Linked DNA regions of Homo sapiens: region 1 is linked to region 2. The links come from fine-mapping of genetic effects on gene expression. Tissue or cell type: whole blood. Region 2 holds a variant in brackets; the other region holds the start of a gene. All regions are shown on one strand. Distances are between the middles of the regions.

What was found. PIP is the estimated chance that this variant, and not a neighbour inherited with it, causes the effect.
Region 1: it holds the start of PACSIN2, and the variant in region 2 is fine-mapped to the expression of PACSIN2 in whole blood (TOPMed, PIP above 0.99).

Annotation. Positions count from the first base shown.
Region 1 is chr22:43,013,756-43,016,371 of GRCh38, reverse strand. It overlaps PACSIN2 (protein kinase C and casein kinase substrate in neurons 2), which reads left to right and starts at 1,223. Exons shown (of 11, transcript NM_001184970.3): 1 at 1,223-1,351. RefSeq lists enhancers at 736-935, 918-1,621 and silencers at 1,056-1,245, 1,256-1,305, 1,426-1,495.
Region 2 is chr22:42,972,137-42,974,891 of GRCh38, reverse strand. All of the region lies in intron 1 of PACSIN2 (protein kinase C and casein kinase substrate in neurons 2), which reads left to right. Among named protein-coding and RNA genes, the nearest start is that of PACSIN2, 42 kb to the left of the region's middle. The variant T/G (reference allele first, on the strand shown) is at 1,414.

The DNA of each region.
Region 1 (2,616 bases), 42 kb before region 2:
TAGCCGGTTCTTTTGTTTCTTTCTCAATTATTGTCATAAGGACAATGCCACAGAGCAGTCTAGAAAGTAAACAACCACTAGATTTCTTTGTGGACTCTTTTCTCATACCTATCTATATGTAGCAGCAATTCTACAGTTTCTACCATTTTGTATCTAGCTTTTTCTTTTATTATTATTTTCTTTTATTTTACTTTTTAGAGAACTGGGTCTTGCTATGTGGCCCAGGTTGGCCTCAAACTCCTGGGCTGAAGCGATTCTCCTGCCTCGGCGTCCCAAGAAGCTGGGATTCCAGGTGCATGTCACCATGCCTGGCTCTATCTGGCTTTTTCTTTTAACGTTTTAGTTTAAGCATTTTCCCATAGTGCTACACAGTCATCATTATTATTCTCAAGGGTTGGGCTGACCTGGGTTTCTAATCCTGGCTCTGCCATTTACTCTCTTTACTCCACATCACCCCCAGCAAGTTACCTGGCTCACCCCTCACCTGGGGTTCCTCTCACCATCCTCTCCACCTGGATGACATGAAGCAGTGCTTGGACAGCGCGTAGGACAGTGCTCAGGAAGTGCTCTCCATTTTCCTTCAAGAGTATTTCCCTCTGCAGAACGGGGCTAATACCCTATCATGCAAGGTGATTGTGAGAATTGGAAAGAATGCGTGTGCATTGCCTGGTGCCTTGCCATCCAAATATATTTTATTAGAGAGAGCAGCAACATACGCCCCCCCAACCCCCCGTTTAAACTAAGCGGGTCCACGTGGAATGACGCTTTTGGCGCAAGTCGGAGGAGCTCCTAACGACATTAGCTTCTTTGAGTCCCTTGGGAGAGGAAACTTTCTGAAAGACTGTAGGATTACCTTCCCTGAACTTCCGGTCAGGTGCGGTGCTGCCCTGCCGCGCCCTCTTACCCCTGGATGCCGACGAAACCGCAAAACTCCAGCCCCGGGAAGCGCGTCTCAAGGACCACCACCAGCGAGCGGCTTTGGGAGAGTAATCTGCGCCACCCTCGCAGCCCATTAAATAGGCACTCCCCGTTTGATTGACAGGAGAAGTCACCAATGCGCGTCCTGGGGCTTTCCCTCGTCCTCACGCGGGGTGAGCCGCCTCTCTACTCATCTGGCCCAATCGGGGGCGCCGGGGAGGCTGTGGGGCGGGGCTCGGTGTCCGGTAGCCAATGGACAGAGCCCAGCGGGAGCGGCGGGGGCGGTGCGGTCGCGGCTGGCGGCAGAAGCGGCCGCAGGGGTCTGGGCAGGGCTGGGCAGTGCTGCCGGAGCAAAAGCGGTAGCGGGAGCCCGGCCGGAGCTGGGTCTGGAGACGCCGTGGCAGCCTGAACGGAGTGTGCGACGGATTGGGAGGTGAGTGGCCGCCGAGGTCAGGGGTCGCCGCGACGGTTGGGGCGCCGCGGGCGGGACGCGGGGGCGCTGGTCCGCGGCCGGGCCCGCGCCCCGTCAGGGCCGCCGCGCCGAGCTCCGCGCCCTGAGGGAAGCGGGTCGGGCCGCGCGGAACTTCCTGTCTCTGTGGGAGGGGGCGAGTGCTCGGGGCCCCGGGGGGCGCCTGGAGAAGACATCTTGGGGAGGACGAGGGCGAGTGGGGTCGGCTCGGGGAAGGGGCGGGGGCCCATGGGGGCGGCGCTGTGGGAGCGGGGCAGTTTTCCGGGGTCCGGGGCCTGCTGGAGAGGGAAGTGCAGGAGCAGGGCCGTCGGGGGTTAAGAGCTGCTAATGAGTGGGGGAGGTGTAGACAGCTGCAGAAGGGGGAGCTGGGGCGACTTTTGGAGGGACGCGATTTAGGAGAAAGCTGGGAATCCGAGACGTGCAGAGGTTAGGCGAGGGTGCCGGAGCAACGCTGGAGGGAAGGCGTGGCTGGGACGCGCCGGTGAGAGGGCAGGGCTTAGTCCTGGGGTGGCCTGGGGGGCGACGCAGGACACACGCGGGTGCGCTGATTTCGGGCGCTTTGATGAGCGGCCTCCATTTCCTTCCTTCCCACCCTCCGTGTCCCGGGGGGGGGGGGGTGGTGTGTGTGTGTCTGTGTGTGTGTGTGTGTGTGTGTGTGTGTGTAGGGCGGGGGGAGCAAAGCCCTTACCGCAGCACGTCCTAGGGCTGGGGCCAAGCAGGAGAGGCCGGGGAGGTTTGCCCTTGTGACCCTCCTCAGAGTTTCCCCAGACTCACTGAATCAGAAATCCGAACTCCTTACTCCTCTAGGGCTTTCAAGCCTGGCCAGGCATCCTGAGAGGTCCGCAATTGGAGAGGTAGTGATTGCTGCTGCTGTTGAATTTCATTGATTCATTGGGTTTCGGCTCCATCAGAGAAGGTCGATTTTCTTTTCAGAAGGAGTTGGTTGGTCAGGGGAGCAAGCTGTGCTATTGCTTTGGGGCCCACACGGCTGCAGCCTTTGACGTATAACAGGACCTGGGGATGCCACTCTTGGCTTGGGTGCCTGAGGGAAGGTGGCCTTTGGCTGGGTGTGTGCACCATTCCTGGATCCTGTCTTCTCTTTTTCCCTCCGCCTGTCCGGTGTTTTTGTGGTTAAGGGGGTAGGCTGCTCAGAGTCTCCAGGGCTACTTGGTACACTGTTTACCAAATACTGCCTGGCTGTCTTGATGAAAATCAGGAAACCAGCTCAA
Region 2 (2,755 bases):
GGACTAATTCCCAAAGCTTATGTTGTTGTTGTTGTTCCTTCTCCTCGTCCTCCTCCTCCTCTTCTTCTTCTTCTTTCTCTTTTCTTCCTCTCCTCCTCCTCCTCCTCCTTCTTCTCTTTTCTTTTCTTTTTTTTTTTTTTTTTGAGACAAGATCTCACTGTGTTGCCCAGGCTGGAGTGCAGTGGCACAATCTCAACTCACTGCAACCTCCACCTCCCAGGTTTAAGCAGTTACGGTGCCTCAGCCACCCGAGTAGCTGGGATTACAGGCACACACCACCATGCCCAGCTAATTTTTGTATTTTTAATAGAGGCAGGGTTTCACCATGTTGGCCATGGCTGGTGCTTATGATCTTTTAATGGATGGCCTCTACCCAGACAAGAAGCCTGTATGTGGTACTTCTGCCCCTACTCACCAGGAAGAGCACTCTCCTCTACTGTTCTCCAGTGGGGAGGAGTTAGGCGTGGCTTAGACCAGGAGCATTGAGGGAATGGAAATCATTGGCAAAGGGGAGCTGGCATCCTTCCCTACTGTTTAGAAGTAGATCATATCTAATTAACAGGTGAATGCTCTGGGTATGGCACCTGCTATTTGGTGCTCATGGGAAAGGGCCTTGGGTAGACGGTTCAGGCGCCAGGCCCTTGGTGGAACTGGCTTTTGTTTTTCATTGTACCTAGTCATGGTACACTGGATGGCGGATAACCGGAAGCAGAGTCGACATAGGGATACGGAGGGAAGGAGACTTACATAGATTTCAGGACAACAGTGAGCTGCCAGGCACCAGGCCAGGTGCTTTATCTCATGTAATCCACTTGGTAACATGTGAGGTGGGAGATGCTGGTCCTTTTTATACAGGTGAGGAAACAGAGGCTCTGAGGTAAATTGAATTGCGATTCCACAGCTCGTGGGCTGTGAGCTGGCATTTGTATCAGGCTACAAGTTAAGGCTACGCTTCTGTTCTTGGTACTTGGCATCCACACCTGAGCTATGTGTCCCCAAGGATGAGGCTGCCATTTCTCTCGTGGGCTTTTCTCTTTTCCTCTTTTAGCATATGCTGTGCCCCTAGACCCTAAGCCCTGTGCTAGGTGCCAAGGAAACAAGGGCAATGAGGGATGATGGAGACGGGAGTGGAGGATGGGCCCAGGCCTAAGACTGGAGTGTAGCAGGCCTGTTTCTGTGTCAGTTACAGGGGAGAGCAGCCAACCCAGTCTGGGTTTATGGGGCAGGGGGCCATGCGTGGCACAAGTGTGGGGCTTGCCACACCTGGGCGGAGACAGGCAGGCATGTTGGCTGGAGAGCTTGCTTGCGAGCTTTGCAGCTATCAAATGTGTAAATTCCAAAGTGTATATGTAGAGTTTCTGATTGAATGAAACATTTGAAAAATGAATGGGGAAAGCATCTGGAGTCTTTTTC[T/G]CAATGAGAAGTTAAAGGAGGAAGCTTCAGTGGAGCCTTGTTGACAAAAAACAGTGTGGTACAGATTCCCAGTTGCATAATTCAGAGCACTGGGGAAGTTTTGACCTGTGTTTTGCTCGTCAATTCCTGAGCAAGTGGAAATAATGAAGTTGCTCAGGAGGGATTGCCTTGTGGGCGAGACCTGTGACAGAGTCTGTCATTTTGAACCTTCTGTTCTGGAAATACTTTTTACAGTGTCTTCTGCCTTTTTTCTTTTTAAAGATTGTTTTAAAAACACCACTTCTCGCTTTCTCTCCTTATCTTTCAGTAATTTGTTGCAGGGCATTTTGGATAGGAATATTTCACTGATATTCTTGTTTGAGCTGACGGTCATGTCCCAGATGTGTTTGCTGCAGTATGTGGGCAGATATATGACTGCCCTGTCAAAGTTCTTACTTCCGTATTGACCCCAGCCATAAAAGTCATGATAAATCTGGTTCACAATGAACAATCCTCACATGCTGTTCGTAATTAGAAAATCCAGGTGTGTGCTTTTATTTCTAGAATTTTGTCCTGTCTGAAATGTAGGAAGATGCTGTTATAAAGAAGCACATTCAAAGCCATTTAAAAGCACGGTTGAGCTGGGTGCAGTGGCATGCATCTGTAATCCAGGTACACAGGAGGCTGAGGCGGGAACATGGCTTCAGCCCAGGAGTTGAAGTCCAGCCTGGGCAACATAAGAAAAAAAAAAGTAAAAGCATGGCTGACTTTTCTTAGAGTGAGGCAGTAGACTGTGTGCTTCCTGGCGTGGTGTCCAGGTCGGAAAGCCCAGAGGTGGAATTCTCCTTTGGCCACTTTGGGCCCATCCTGGTGCAGAGCTACAACTTCAGGTTTCCTAGTGCACAGTTCTGATCATATCTTTTTTTCCTAGATGTATAAGGAACTATTTTTCTAAAATGGTGGTGGTTTAAAATATATATATATATATTTAGTATTTATTGATGATTCTTGGGTGTTTCTCGGAGAGGGGGATTTGGCAGGGTCATAGGACAATAGTGGAGGGAAGGTCAGCAGATAAACATGTGAACAAGGGTCTCTGGTTTTCCTAGGCAGAGGACCCTGCGGCCTTCCGCAATGTTTATGTCCCTGGGTACTGGAGCTTAGGGAGTGGTGATGACTCTTAAAGAGCATGCTGCCTTCAAGCATCTGTTTAACAAAGCACATCGTGCACCGCCCTTAATCCATTTAACCCTGAGTGGACACAGCACATGTTTCAGAGAGCACGGGATTGGGGGCAAGGCCATAGATCAACAGCGTCCCAAGGCAGAAGAATCTTTCCTAGCACAGAACAAAATGGAGTCTC